2 separate regions of the Homo sapiens genome follow, and region 2 is linked to region 1. A link means that fine-mapping ties the variant in region 1 to the expression of a gene that starts in the linked region. Tissue or cell type: whole blood. Region 1 holds a variant in brackets; the other region holds the start of a gene. All regions are shown on one strand. Distances are from middle to middle.

The links. PIP is the estimated chance that this variant, and not a neighbour inherited with it, causes the effect.
Region 2: it holds the start of ECI2, and the variant in region 1 is fine-mapped to the expression of ECI2 in whole blood (INTERVAL, PIP 0.92).

The regions. Positions count from the first base shown.
Region 1 is chr6:4,106,830-4,115,016 of GRCh38, forward strand. It overlaps the pseudogene TEX56P. Among named protein-coding and RNA genes, the nearest start is that of ECI2, 25 kb to the right of the region's middle. The variant T/C (reference allele first, on the strand shown) is at 3,905.
Region 2 is chr6:4,131,732-4,139,918 of GRCh38, forward strand. ECI2 (enoyl-CoA delta isomerase 2) reads right to left here and starts at 3,844. Exons shown (of 10, transcript NM_206836.3): 1 at 3,780-3,844; 2 at 1,818-1,980. The coding sequence starts at 3,829. It overlaps ECI2-DT (ECI2 divergent transcript), which reads left to right and starts at 4,341. Exons shown (of 4, transcript NR_103764.1): 1 at 4,341-4,517; 2 at 5,630-5,671. RefSeq lists silencers at 3,890-4,029, 4,190-4,399.

The DNA of each region.
Region 1 (8,187 bases):
CCTGTTGATCATTAATTCCCATTTCCCCCTCCCACAACGCCCTGGGATGTAACCATCATTACGCTCTTTGATTCTATGAATTTGACTGTTTTAGATGCCTCATATAAATGGAATCATGCATTATTTCTGTGACTGGCTTATTTCACTTAGCATGTCCTCAAGGTGCATCTACGTTGTCACATATTACAGAATTTCTGTCTTTTAAAAGGCTGACTAGTACTTCATTGTACGTATATACCACATTTTCTTTATCCACTTCTCTGTCAATGAAGATTTACATTTTTCCCATACTTTGGCTATTGTGAATGGTGCTGCGATGAATATAGAGGTGTTAATGTCTCTTCAAGATTTTGATTTCAATTCTTTTGGATAAATACCCAGAAGTGGCATTACTGGATCATATAATTCCTTGGGATTTTTTTTAATGTAAATAGTCATATTATCTGCAAATAGAGAAACATTTTTACATCTTGTTTTCCATTCTTTGTCTTTTATTTCCTTTCTTTGCCTTATTGCAATGACTAAGATTTTCAGTACAATGTTGAACAGATGTGGTAAAAGCAGACATCTTTCATTTTTTTTCTCAATCTCAGAGAAAAAACAATTCAGTGTTTTATTTACTCTAGGTTTCTGCAGATTCCTTTTATAAGTTTGAGAAGTTCCCTACTGTTTCTAGTTTGTTTTTATCACACATGAATGTATAATTTTGTCAAATGCTTTCTCTGTATCTATTAATAATATGTTTATTCTATTAATATGGTGAATTGCATTGCTTTTTAAAAATATTTCTTATAGTAAAATGTGCATAACATAAGATTTACCATTTTAAGTGCTTAAGTGTAATTAAGTTAGTGGCATTAAGTACATTCCCATTGTTATGCAACCATCGTCACTATCCTTCTCCAGAACATTTTCATCATCCCATAATGAAACTGTCTCTCCTTTAAACATTAATTTTCTACCCCTTTTTCTTCTCAGCACCTGGTAACCATTATTCTATTTTCTGACTCTATGAATTTGCCTATTGAATCATACAATATTTGTCCTTTTGTGTCTGGCTTATTTCACTTGGCATAATGTCTTCAAGGTTCATCCATGTTGTAGCATGTATCAGAATTTTATTCTTTTTTAAGGCTGATAATATTTCATTCTATGTATAGACTACATTTTGTTGATCCATTCATCTGTTGATGGACACTTGGGTTGTTTTTACTTTTCTATCTTGTGAATAATGCTTTGTATGCAAATATCTGTTCAAGTCTCTGCTAGTCAATTATTTGCGGTATATACTCTGCTATGGTTTAAAGGTCTTCTCCAAAACTCATGTTGAAATTTAATTGCCATGTCACTTTACTGTTTGAGTAACGTTGGTGTGAAGCTTCATTGATGCCTTTTGCTTTATGTCCTGCTTAAGTCTGTGTGAAGGATTTGTGTTTTTCTGCCTTACAAACATAATTTAATTTATTGGACAGGAATTCATGGATAGTAATGCTGTCTGCCCCTTTACTTCAGAAAACACAGTGACTCTAGTGGATTTGAATAAGTGAAACTGCTCTGAAATGCTATGGAAAGCCGACTCCCCAAAGAGTGGTTTCTTCTAGAAGTTTGAATTTGTAGCTACAGTTTCCAGGAAGAAAAATAGTAGTTGGATAACTTGGTAAAATAATAACATCATTTTCATTTTCTTCCCTTTTCTTAACTTTGGTTTCCTAAAGGAAGAAAATAAGTACATAGCACATAATCTATTTAAATAGATTTAAAGAGAGTTGCAAAATAAATCACCCGGTCTAGCTCTTAAGTGAATAAAACAGATTTTGTTTGTGAATAAAATCTGTTGATTGCCAACACTACCACTACAGTATCCCACCAAGGGCTTCATGTGTCAGCTCAGTGCGATCTCCTTTAACTCTGCAGCACCGCTGCAGCTGCCGACGTAGCCTCGGTAGGTGGCTATTAGAGCTCTACCATATACAGTGGTGCATCTTCAGATTTATGCATCAAACTAAAGACATGTCCAAGTCCATTTTAATTTCCTCAGTGTTTTTATGGGAAGTTTTATGGACCTCCCCCAGTTGTCTTTTTATTTGGGGTTATGACGATCACGTTTGATAATTACAGTGATAATGTTTCCACGTGATGCTTTTGTTTGAACCTGATAAAATTTAGTGAAACTTTGTAATGATCTATGTGCACTTTTACTTGTAAAATGGAATTTCTGTATGTTTATACTTGTAAATATATTGTTGTTAGTGCTCCTGTTGCTCATGGTGTCCTGCCTCGCATTTGTGATTCTGTTAATGACTTGTATCTTAACTAAGTTCTTAGTGGTGTTGTAATAGGGAGATGGGGCAGGTGGGGTGTTATTTGTACCACTGAATCTTCATTAATTTGGTTCTTTACTGTTTTGAGGGGAGAAAGAATGTGAAATGGTTTGTGTATTATTGAATTTTAAGCAATATTTTAGAAGCTGTGTGACTGCTTTAATAACTTTTTCCCAGTGTTATTTGAATCATACTACCAGTTTTACTACAGCCGAATGACAATTGTGTGAAAGTTACTGCCTTCATAAGATCAAGTCACCACTGTTACACAGCTGACATATATTGTATTACCTTTGCAGCTAGTAAACTATAAAGTTTAGATACTGAATCTCATTACAGGGTTATTTATATAATGTGACGTTATTCAGTACTGACAGACTACATGAAGTAGTTTTAAAATCTAGTGCTATTTTTATTTTAAAGGTTAGCAATGAGGAGGAAATGTGATCTGGCTGTGTTTGTCTTCTGTACAAAGCCTGAAATGCTTATGGTTTTTTGGTTAACAGCCACAGAGGGCAAAGTTTAAGACTTTCTTGTAAGGACTAACTGTTCTTTTCAAGCCACTGTTTGTTTTTCTAAAAGCAGGATTTGCTTCCGTAGCAGGCAAGTTCCTTGACGTGGAATAGTGCAACCTGTATATGGGCTATTATAATAGGAAAGACATCTGTATTTGCACAGTTTAAATCATTCTTAAATTTTAAACATGTGAAATGTCCCCAAAAATCTTTAATTTTTTGGTAATTTGTACTCTTTTTGTGCACATGTTGATTTCTTAATGGTAAATCCTTCATTTAAAGGTAGTGTTTTCTGTTGAGAATATTTTCATGGAATAAAACAATCTTTTCGTGGCAAAAAAAAAAAAAAAAAAGAAATTTAATTGCCATGTGATGTATTGAACGGTGAGACCTTTAAGGTGTGATTAGGTCATGAGGGTTCTGCTCTCATGAGTGGATTAATGCCATTACTGTGGGAGTGGGTTAGTATGTCAGAAGGTCAATCTCCTTTTTCTCTCTGTTTCACTTGTGTGGTTCCTTGACATGCTATGCCTTTGCCATGATATGATGCAGCAAGAAGACCCTTACCACATGTGGCCCCTCAATCTTGGATTCCCAGGCTCCAGAACCATGAGCCAAATAAATATATTTTCTTTATAAATTACTCAGTTTATGGTATTCTATCATAGCAACAAAAATGGACTAAGACATACCCAGAAGTGGAATTGTGGGATTGTATGGTAATTATGCCTATTTGGGGTCCCTTAAGATTCCATATGCATTTTAGAATACATTTTACATATCTGCAAACACATTGTTGGGACCTTGATAGAATTACATTAAATCTGCAAATCACCTTGGGTAGTATTAATATCTCAATAATACTAAGTCTTTTAATCCGTGAACATGTGAAGTCTTCCCATTTATTTATTTGTCTTCTGTAATTTATTTCAGTAATGTTTTGTAGTTTTCACTAAGTATTATGCCTCATTGGATAAACTCATTCCTAAATTTGGTTATTTTTGATGTTATTATAAATTGAATGGTTTTTCTCAATTTCCTTTTTGGAATTTTCATTGCTAGTATTTA[T/C]TTATCTTTAATCTTTATTTTTTCCTTCTTTCTGCTAGTTTTGGATTTAGTTTGTTCTTTTTCTAGTTTCTTATGGTGTAAATCTAGGCTGTTTATTCAAAATCTTTCTTTTTTCTTAATGTGTTTGCAGCTGCAAATTTCCATCTTAGCACTGCTTTCAGATCCTCCCATAAGTTTTGGTTTGTCGTGTTTTCATTTGTGTCAAGATATTTTAAATTTTTTGTGATTTTTCTTGACCCATTGGTTATTTAAAAGTGTGTTAATTTCTACATACTTGTGAATTGTCCAGGTTTTTGCTGTTAACTTCTAGTTTCATTTCATTGTGATGAGAAATGATATTTTGTATTTCAATTTTTAAATCTATTAAGATGTCCTATGGCTTAACATATGGAAAATGCTCCATGTGCACTTAAAAAATACATATTCTGTTGTTGTTAAGTGCAGTGTACTGTATGTGTCTGCTGGGTCCAGTGGGTCTATAGTGTTTTTTAAGTCCTATATTCCCCTATGATCTTCTACCTGGTTCTCTATCCACTGAAGAAAGTGGAGGTATTGAAGTTTTCTACTATTATTGTAGGGCCATTTATTCTTCAATTCTGTCAATGTTTGCTTCATATATTTTGGAGCTCTAATATTTAGTGCATATGTTTATAATTGTCATATCTTCTTGGTAAATTGAGACTTTTAGCATTATATTATGTCTGTCTTTGTCTCTTTTAACAGTTTTTGACTTAAAGTCTATTTTGTCAATTAGTATAGCCATTTCTGCTCTCTTTTTATTACTATTGGCATGGAATATCTTTTTAATCCTTCCACTTTCACCCTACTCATATCCTTAGATCTAAAGTGAGACTCTTTTAAACAGTATATAGTTGATCCTGGTTTTATACCCACTCTGCCAACTTATGATTTTTGATATGTTTTCAATCCAATTACATATAAATTGCTGAAAAGAAAGCAATTAGTTTTGCCATTTTGTTGTTTTCTCTGTCCCTTACAGGTTTTTTTCTCCCTCATTTCCTTGATTACTGCCTTCCTTCATGTTTAAAGTTGTTGTAATGGCATATTTTGATTCTCACTTCTGCTTGCGTATATTTTCTTGGTGTTTACTATGTGCACTACATATAACATCCTAGAGTTATGATGATCTATCTTAATTGATACCAACTTAACTTCAATTGCATATAAAAACTCTACTTCCTTAAAGCTTTTCTCCCCTTATGTTATTGATGTCACAAATTATACGGTTTAATATTATATATTCATTAACATATATTCATAATTATTTTATGCAATTGTCTCTTAAATCCTGTAGAAAATCAAAAGTGGAGTTATAAACCAAAATTACATTAATACTGTTTTTATATTTGTTCATATATTTACCTTTACTGGAGAACTTTATATTTTCATCTGTCTTCCAGTTACTATCTAGCATTATTTCATTTCAAACTGGAGGACTTCCTTTAACATTTCTTGTAGGGCAAGTGTAGTAATAATAAATTCCCTCAGCTTTTGTTTTTATGGGAATGTCTTAATTTCTCCCTCATTTTTGAAGAAACATTTTACCAGGTATAGAACTCTCAGTTGACAGTTTTTTTTAAAATTTTCAGCACTTTAAATATATCACCCCACTGCCTCTAGTCTCCAAGGTTCTTGCTGAAATAATACTCGGATAGTCTTATCGCAGATCTCTTGTATATAGTCACTTTTCTCTTGATGCCTTCCAAGATTCTCTTTATCTTGCACTTTTGTCAGCTTTGATTATGTGTCTTCGTATGGGTCTCTTCAGGTTTGTCCTACTTGGAGACCATTGAGCTTGGATTTGTATATCCATGTCTTTCCTCATATTTGGCAGGTTTTCAGCTATTATTTATTCAAATAGTCTCTCTCCTCATTTTTCTCACCTCCTTCTGGGACTCCCATTATGCATATATTGGTCAGTGTGATGGCATCTCATAAGTCCCTAAGCCTCTGTTCACTTTATTTTTTCTTCTGTATGCTTCTCAAATTCAATAATTTCAAATGAGCTGTTTTCAAATTTGCTTATTCTTTCTTCTACTTATTTGAGTTTGCTGTTGAACTCCTCTAATAAAATTTTCAAATTAGTTATTGTACTTTTCAGCTCAATATTTTTTTTTATAATTTCTTTGTTGATGTTCTCATTTTGTTCATATGTTTTCTTGACTTTCCTTTGTTCTTTGTTCATGTTTTTCTACAGTTCTGCGAGTATATTTGACATTTGTGGTTTTTTTTTGTTGTTGTTTTGAGACAGACTCTCACTCTGTTGCCCAGGCTGAAGCGCAGTCATGTGATCTTGGCTCACTGCAACCTCTGCCTCCTGGGTTCCAGTGATTCTCATGCCTCAGCCTTCTGAGTAGCTGGGATTACAGGTGTGCAGCACCATGCTCTGCTAATTTTTTTGTATTTTTAGTAGAGATGGGGTTTCACTATGTTGGCCAGGCTAGTGTCAACTCCTGGCCTCAAGTGATCTGACTGCCTTGGCCTCCCAAAGTGCTGGGATTATAGGCATGAGCCATCGCACCTGGCTGACAGTTGTTTTAAAGTCTAGTAAGCCTGATGCCTGTGTTTCTTCCAGAACTGTTTCTGGAGATGTGTTTTGTTCATTTCAGTGGGCCATCTTTCCCTGGTTCTTTGCATGCCTTATGATCTTTTTTTGAAAATTGGGTATTTAAAAAAAATATGGCCACTCTCCCAGTCTTTGCAGACTGGCATGTAAGACCTCACTAATTTGTAAGTCCATGAGGTCTTCACTAATCTGAGATTAGTCCAGGTCTTCTCAGGTCTTTTCTAGGCATGCTTCCTTCCTGTGAATGTGTGTGTGCTCCCTGTCCCCATCAAAGGTGATTTTAAAGGTCTTCATTTCCTAAACAGTCTCACTGCAGCTTTTTCTTAGGGCCTTAGATATTCTATTGTATTCCTCTGTAATCTCCTGCCCTCAGAGGTCCACAGGGCAGCAATCCCTGTGTAGTTTTCATGTGCTGCATTGCTCACCACTGCCTTCTGTGGCTTCCAGCCTGAAATCAAAACTATTTGCTGTCTCCAGTCTGATACCTGAGTTGGACATTACAGACACCATTTCTGTAGGCAGCCCACAGACAGGCCAGGATGTTGCAACAAGTTTCACTCTGCTCCTTCTGTCCAAGTGTTCACATTTCCATGTTTCTTTTTATGTCACATCATTTTGTAAATATTATGTCATATGGATCCTGGATCCATATGACAGCTTCTTCTCAGGGCCTTAGATATTCTATTGTATGGTTGGATCCAATATTATGTCATATGGATCCTGGATATTTACTGTATTTACTATATTGTGGCATTGGATGGAAGTTATGTTTTTGTGGATCATGTTACAATCATCTGGAAAATGCCATTTTTGTTTTAGCAAGAAATCAATCTGGTTAGGTTCAGACTACAAGCTGTCTTGATCTTCTGTGGGTGGTGGTTAAAATCCCAGTACACTTCGCAAAGCCTTTGCTATGCTGGTTTGAGTCTGTCTCACTTATGAATCAGACTTATCTAGGTTCATACACAGAATTAGAGCTTCTTTCTCTTGGCTCTGGGAGTCTCTTCTTGCTTTCACTCTTTAGCCCCCAGAGGGCCCTTTTCCTTTTCAAAGTGTTTTTGTTTTCCTCAACTTCTATTTGGCTGGCCACTCCATGGTCACCGCAGCACCACCCCACAATAGGGGTGTGCCTCTGAGGCAGAAGTATTAGGTTGGTGCAAAAGTAACTGCAGTTTTGCCTTACTTCTAATACCATGCTCCGGAGTTAGATTCCAGCAATTGTGTTTATTTCTCATAATCTGGGAAACTTATCCTTGTGCAGTTGCTTCTCTGTATTTTGACACCCTTTAACAATCCACCTGCTTTTGATTAATTTCAGCATGCTCAAGTAGTTCTTTTTCGTATTTCTTCTAGAGATTTTAGTTGTAATTTGTGGAGGAATGGGCAGTAGTTGGCTTGTGCTGCCATTGTGGGATGAGAACTCTGCCTAGATTTTTATCTTCATTTTGACATTTACTGGGAGTTTGACTCTGGAGAAGCTAGTTTAATCTCCATGCCTCGGGATGCCTACTTGAAAATGGGTAGTAGCAACAGACCTACCTCATTTTTAATTTTTGGCATTGTTTTTGGTGGATAAAATATGATAATGGGCATTAAGCACTAGTAACTGCTCAATTGAAACGAATGCTTATTTCTATTCTTATATTTTCTATAAAACTGAACATCTTGGATTACAATTACTGGAATAAAAAATTTA
Region 2 (8,187 bases), 25 kb after region 1:
CTGTAATTCCAGCTGCTTGGGAGGCTGAGGCAGAAGGATTGCCTGAACCTGGGAGGCAGAGGTTGCAGTGAGCTGAGATGGTGCCGCTGCACTCTACCCTGCGTGACAGAGCAAAACTCTGTCTCAAAAAAACAAAATAAAAACAAAAGAAAAAAGAAAAAAGAAAAAGGCAGTAAAGGAGGTTATGAATTTCTTTAGACAGAGATAGTGTCATCTGGCAAGAGTTGGCCAACCTAGAAGTTAGAGGGAACACAGTCCACAGGATAAGGGCTTGCCTTTGTCTCCTGACTGTCCTCAATGCTAACACCAATTGCAAGGCTGGAGGGCACCCAGGACCACCCTCAAGTGCAACAATTTGCTAGAAAGACACCCAGAACTCACTGCAAGCTGTTAAACGCACAATTAATAGTTTATTAAGGGAAAGGATAGAGATTAGAATCATCCAAGGGAGGACACACACAGGATGGAGTCTGGGGCAGTAGCAAATGTGGAGTTTCCATTGTCCTTTCCCCATGGAGTCAGCATAGGGCACCTCTACCAGAATTGATGTGACAGTACACAGGGAGTCCTGCCAACCAGAGATGCTCAGCTCATCCAGTCTCGGTGTCCAGAGTTTTTAACAGGGCTCCATCACCTGTGCATGACTGTATAACCTGAAGCCCCCACCCTAAATCACATCGTTAAGACAATCCAGGCAAATAAAGACTCCTACCAGTCATTAGAGATTCACTTCCCAGAAGCTGAGGGCAAAGCCACACCTCTTCTGGGGCAAGGTTAAATTTTTTACTATACACACCCATATGAAAGAGAAGCTCATACCCATCATAGGACAGAAAAATAGATAACACAGGAGCCCAGAGAGGCAGACATGCCAGGGAAGTCTTTGGCATTGAAACTTAAGAGCTTTAGTTTTTAAATTTTGTTATAAAAATTTCCAAACATACCAAAGTAGAATACTATAATGAATTCCCAATACCCATCATCCAGGTTCAACAATTATCAAACTGCCTTACTTGCTTCATCTCTCTCTCTCTTTATTTTCTTTCGTTTTTGGACAGAGTCTCGCTCTGTCACTCAGGCTGGAGTGCAGTGGCGCAATCTTGGCTCATTGCAACCTGCACCTCACAGGTTCAAACGATTCTCCTGCCTCAGCTTCCCAAGTAGCTGGGATTACAGGTGTGCGCCACCAGTCCAGCTCATTTTTGAGTTTTTAGTAGAGATGAGGTTTCACCATGTTGGCCAGGCTGGTCTCAAACTCCTGACCTTAAGGGATCTGCCCGCCTCAGCCTCCCAAAGTGCTGGGATTACAGGCGTGAGCCACCATGCCTGGCCTCATCTATCCTTTTCTTTTTGTGCTTAGAGAACTTCAACTATCCATGCTATTTCACCCCTATATCCTTAGTACACTTTTCTTAAAAATATCAACATTTTCTTATATAACCTTGACACCATTAACGATGATTTCTAGGTATCTTCTAACACTCTGTCCTTACTCAAAACTTCCCCAATTGTCTTAAAAATACCTTTTTCAGTTGATTTATTCTAATCAAGAGCTAAGTAAGGTCTACAAATGTGAATATTATATCTCGTAAGTCTCTTTTACTCGTGTGACACTGAGGCACTTTGTGCCTTAATAGTATTTCAAGGTCTAATATAAAAAACTGGCATATATATATATACACACACACACTCTTCAGAGAAGAGGGAGCAAGACAAACCAAAATGTTAAGGCCACATTTTAGTAAACACACAGTGTATTTATTTAAGAAGTCATTTGCCCAAAATTCTTTAAATAACGTTCGACCGTAGGCATTTACCTGCTTATATAGCGCGTAGAGTTTTAGCTTCACTTCGTTTCCTGGATCCTTTTTCAAGAGTTTCACTTGATTCATTGAATTTTCAAAGTCCTTCTGACTGGCTCTCATTGCTGTTCTATTCATGTGCAGCTGAACTACCGGGAAACTAGTGACCTGCAGAGAACTACAATTAGGCAGACTGATTTCTATTTGTTCCCAACCCTCACATTTCTGCAGCCTGATTTCTAATTGTTCCCAGCCTATACATAACAAAATGCCATGTTTGTCTATAGATATTTTCTTTATACTTGCCTCAGCAAACTGGCTGCAAATAATTGGCTGTAAGGATTCCAAGATAATAAGTCAATACAGAAGCTAACAGTAGTAACTTTAAATAAAAGGAAAAGTAACCATCCAGGGAGGTATCTGTAAGCAACTAAAGATAAAAGCAGCCAGAACAGGAATGACCATGTAAATTTTGCCAAAGGCAAGAAGTGAAGTGCATGCAAGACAGTGGACAGCAGGAAACCAAAAGGCTAAAGTGCACAGAATTTAGTGAAGTGTCCCAAAGTCCTGAAACAGCCTCTGCACTCACTGATAAGCCATAAGCTATATCAGGTCAATTCTTGCCTCTTTGCTGGCGAAGCTGGTGTTCCAACATACACACAGGTGGAAGGAGGGGAGAATGGATGTGAACATACAAGAAATATTCAAAAGAACACACGAGCAGTTGCTGGCATTCCAGATAGAGCCACAGCCTTCTCAGCAGATGGGAGGGAATCTACCTGCAGTGGAAGGGAGTCAGTGAAGGGGGCTCAGCAGGCGTGCCCCTTTCTATGGGTATGTTTAACCAGCCAGCCAGGAACAGAGCAGAAACAGCAACCACCGCGGGGGTGATCAGCACGTTTTTAAGCACACATAGTGAGCGGGGGTGGGGTGGCAAACTTGAATGCACAGGACTCAGGCCACAAGCTAAAAATGGAGTTCACGACGATGACACTGAATAATAGAGTTAATGGCAAAAAAGATGATTAAAATAATACAGGTTACAAAGCCCAAACCTAACACACAAACACAATTATGTAACTCGAAAATGGTGCAATGAACTCTAGGTTCAAACTTTGGACTATTAGTAACTGATTCAGTAAGATCAGCCTAGAGTAAGTTTTACATTAAAATGATTTTCTGTAAAGGGAAAAACTGCATCTTATATGGCAAATTCCACGTAGAAAACGAAAGAAAAATTTAAAATATCCACAGAAAGCCGAAATGTACAAGTTTCCACAAAATGTGGAACAAATTTATTTTTAAATAAAGCGTGAGTTTTAAAAACAAATAGCAAAAACACGACCATTTAAGAAAATACATAAAGTCGGGAAAATCACTCATAATTCTACCACTTCAAGGCCACCACCGTGTTTCGGTTTTGTTCCCTATGCACAGATTCGTGCGGGTTCCCGGGACCCCAGGGAGGTGCAGCGTGCTTCTTAGCCGTTACTCTGTACCCGGCCATTTCACTTTATAGCATACGTGTTCTCCAAGAAGCAGAGTGTTAAGTCCACACGAGTGATAACGGCTTGCGTTTACCTCGCTTTTAGCAAGCGACGCTTTGCACCCCAGAAGCAGCCCGGCTGGGAAGTGCAGGCCCGGGTGCTCAGCTGGGGCGGCTCACCCGCCCGGAGTCCGGCCCCAGGAGGATGGGAGCGTGCGCGGAGGCAGGCGGAGACCTTGGGGACTGCTGACAGGGAACCATAGCCCTGACCTCCCGACGCGCCCATCCTGACCACTCCGGGCCCAGCGGTGCAGGAGGGCGCGCGTGAGGTCGTCACTTTTTAGCACTACCTCACCGGAAAACCAGCAAAGCAAAATCCTGTTGCCACCTAGACAATAGGGAAGGAGGGTCTTCCAACGGCGGCGACCTTCGCCTGGACAGCGGTATCCTGCGGGCGACCATGGGCCGAACGGCCGGGACTCCAAGCTTACCTCGGACACGAACGCCGCGCCAGTCTCCAAGCCAAGTACGCCATCGCCATCCCTTGGGCGGCTCTAGGGCTGCGGGGGCTCGGGGGTGGGGCCGGGTCTCGGGGGCGGGGCCTAGCTCGGTCTGCGGGGGCTCGGGGGTGGGGCCGGGTCTCGGGGGTGGAGCCGGGACTCGGGGGCGGGGCCTAGGCTCCCGGGCTGCGGGGGCTCGGGGGTGGGGCCGGGGCTTGGGTGCGGGGCGGGGCCGAGAGCAGAGCCCAGGCAGGAGCCTGGGGCATGGGCGGGGCCAGGGTTGGGGCGGGGCCAGGCTGAGAGCGTAGCCACGCCGCATTCGCCATCGCTAGCCCGTGGCCTCCTCTGGGGCTGCGGGGGCTCGGGGGTGGGGCCGGGGGGGTCGGTGCGTGGGCGGGGCGGGAGCTCTAGGCGGTTAGGAGTCGGGGCTCAGATGCGGGGGCGGGGCCGGAGCGAGGCCGGGTATCACCCGGGAGTGGAGGAAGTGCGGGGGGTTCGCGGCGCGGGGAGGGTGATCCCGGGAGGACTTGCGCGGCGCGTGGGGCGGGGCACAGATGCTCCCCGGCCTGGCTCCGAGTAACTGCGAGCTGGAGGCGCGGCTGCTCTCTCGGGCGGACCTCAGCTCTGCGAACCCTGTGGCTGCCGGAGCACTGAGCGCCCTGCCCGGAGTCCCGCGGAGCCTGGCGAGGAGGGGTCGCTGCATCCCGAGGGCCAGCCCTGAGCCGGGAGGTGGGGTAACAATTGAGGGCGTATGCTTAAAAGCTGCTAGGTCATGCATCCCCAAATCGAAGGTTTGCAGACCTGGTAGGACGCCTGGGGGTCAGAAGTGATTTTTGGAGTACCCAAGTTTTTAGTGTCAGTGAAGAGTTTGTGGATATTTTTGAGTTCTGCTGAGGCATTTGCAAAGTATTTTCTTTGGGGAAGAATTCTTAAGAGTTGGAAGGGCCTTGGCTGTGTCACCTTGTCCAGTTCCCAGAGAACCAAAAAACAAAACAGAACAAAACGAAACAAAACCACCCCTCTAAATTCTGTGCCCAAGTTGTCCCATCCAAGCATGCCTAGGAGTTTTAGATTTATGTAGCTGACACCTGTGGACTACCTATAGTGAGCCAGGCTAATTGTAAGTCTTTGGACAACCCTGTAAGGAAAATGATATTGCCCTGTTGAGCTGATGTGGAAATTGCCCTGTTGAGCATATTGCCCTGTTGAGCTGATGTGGAAACTGAGACCCAGAAAGATTAATCAGGTGAATTCCCCAAAGACAGGAGGCTTGCAGGTGGGCAGAGTCCAAGTCTCAAGTAACTTTATCATTAAGTTTCATCAGGTAGATCTGGGTAATAGTGTAGATGGGGCAACACCAAAAGTCAAATAGAACAATTTGGGCTTATCCCAAAGAGATTTTTTTTTTTTTGAGATGGAGTTTCCGTCTTGTTGCGTAGGCTGGAGTGCACTGGCACAATCTCGGCTCACTGCAACCTCCACCTCCTGGGTTCAAGTGATTCTCCTGTCTCGGGCTCCCGAGTAGCTGGGATTACAAGCATGCGCCACCAGGCCCGGCTAATTTTTTGTATTTAGTAGAGATGGGGTTTCACCTTGTTGGTCAGACTGGTCTCAAACTCCTGATTTCAGGTGATCCACCCGCTTCGGCCTCCCAGTGTTGGGATTACAGGTGTGAGCCACCACACCTGGCCTCTCCATATATTACAAAGTGGTAGTTGGTAGGCTGAGCTGCCTCTCTCAGAGACCTTGACTCTCTCCAAGGCTGTTAGATAACCTCAGAGGTAATGGAAATGCAGTAATCAGATATTGCAGATAATACAAGACTCATTCATTTCCAGAAGATGAAACAGCTGTCATGGAAATATTTTTTAAATCTCATACTGGTAAGCATATTTTGATAGTGAAACCTTTTGCAATGCAAGCAAACTACTCTCAGGCTTATACCTACCACAGAAAAGAGTGGGGTGTGGGAAATTAGCTTATCTTTTTCAAACTATAATTTTAAAAATATAGAAAGAGCATGTGTCAAAGATTTACTTAGCTCATTAATTAGGGAACCAACAGGGTGCTAAAGAAGAAGTTAAAAGACTAGTTTAATATAGTCAATGTTAAAAAAAGAATGCTGGAATAGATTGCAAAGTTAGAAACAAAACTGGTTAATATCCCATAGAGCAATAAAACCATAACCTCGGGAGGAATGTTTTTCCTATTGGAGAAATCATTTGCATATCTACCAGCTGTCATTTACTAAAGCCCCATTATATCCAGCATTTGAGAGAAAGGAGATGGTTAAAGAGACAGACATTCCTGGTTAAAGAGACAGACATTTAGATTCCTAGATCCTAAAGAGGGTCATCTTGGGTCCGTATTTGGTTTACTAAACTGTTAAGAGGTGTCCAGACCATGCCTTGTAAACATGGCTGCCATGGCCCTGTGGGTGGGAGGGCCAGTTGCAGCAAAAGGGAACCATTGTGATTTTGGTAGATTCTCCACCTGAGCTTGAAGATCATTGTATCTGTGCTAAGGAGTTTGGATTCCGTGCTGAGAGCAAGCAGAGAGCCATTGAAGATACAATTGGCATGCCCAGCTATCCAGTTCTCAGTGAAATCCTGGACTCCAGATATATCTTCAGGGTGTAATGGTTCTGGATAAGAGTAGGAAAGGCAGAAACTCAGTCAAGACCTCTCTAAAGCTCTAATCTTCACCCTGTTATATAACCAGCTTCCCCTGGAGCTTATGAAAATCTTGGGGAGGGGGTCCTCCAGTCTGGTTAGATCCTGTCTTATTGATTGCAGGGGACTGATGCTGCCTGGGAGGGCCGTTGATGTTCTTTGGGTTGAGAGAATCTCAGACTCTCTTAGCAGGTGCACAGGAAGTGTTGTCTCCGGCTATAATGAATCTTTGGGGTCAGCATATCGACTTCACAGTGTTGTGCTCAGTGGTAGTGTGAATGTTTCTTTTTTAAGATCATAGAATAGATTATATCAGAGTAGAATGTTACATGATGACTCTGTCAGTCATGATAATTTTTATTTCCAATATTTACATCATCAGATACTGTTGTTACAGCATGTACAGAGTCTGTCACATTCAGTCTTGAGGAACAATTCTGATACACTGTCCCAATTAACAGTGCAAGCTAGAAACCTGGAAGAGTCTTTGATTCCCTTACCTCACTGACACCTCACATCTATCATTCATCAAATACTAGTGATTCTGTCTCCTAAATATATTTTTTTAATTTTCCCCCTCATCTCACATCCCTCTGCATCGTCTTAATTCATGCTCTCATTGATTTTGAGATTACTGTTACCTGGATTCCTGTAGCAGCCACTTCCCAGTTTTGCTAATTCAGTTACCTCTGCAATCCATTCTCTCCCTGCTTCCAGGCTGGTCTCCCTAAATTTTAAATCTTACACTCCACACGATTCTCCCCGATCTCTCCCCTTGGCTGAAAATCTCTTAGTGAGTCCCCTTTGCCTGTTAAACAAACCCAAGCTGCTTAGCACTGGCAAATAAGGCCCACAAGATTTGCCCTTGCCTACCTTCTCAGGCACCTCTTTCCAGCCCCACATGTTAACTTCCCATTTCAGGTGAACTTGGGATGCTCAGTTTCTCTGAGTTTCCAGGTTCTCTCATTCCAGGCATTGGCATATCCAGGAATCTCCTCTGACCCACCCACTGGTTAGTCCTGTCCTGAGTTCCTACAGTCTCCTGGGCGTTTCTTTCTTCTGGCCCCTATGTCACTGTGTTTTATATCTGATTAGTAATCTATTTTATTACAAGGGGCATATCCTGGGAAGAATTCTACCCTGTATTCAACCCCTTTCTCATTTCTGGACACACTGCTTGACAGAAAATACTGTACTCTGTGAAGGTTTGTTGGATGATGGATGAGCTGTTGAAAGTTTCCTTCTAGAGCGTGCTTTTCCACATTTGATAATAAGTTGTGAGTCAGTTGCTACCTTTTCATTAAGTTGTCAGAAGGTGTTAACATGAGTGTTTTTGTGGTTTGAAATGTTGCTTTTTCAGTGAGTGGTAGCTAAAGGCAGAGGACTTTGACTGTTGCCAAGTTCCTGTGCCGAAATGAACTGGGGAGAGTGGTACGAAGGCAACTGTGGTGTTACTTAACTCTATAAATTTCTGGGTGAAAAATCTATTATAGCTTTTTCCATTAGTCATTAAAATGATTAGTCCACGTTCAACGTTCTGTATCATAATTGTTTCCTGCTTTAGCTGGATGACATTGCTTGAGATAAATTAAACCTGTGGCATTATTATGTCTCCTTTACAAAATTAATCCTCTTTTCTTCTTCCTAGCTAGGCTTTGTATTGCCTTCCTACACAATCTTATATGTCAGAGATATTAAAAATAGTATGCTGGAATATTACCTGCTTT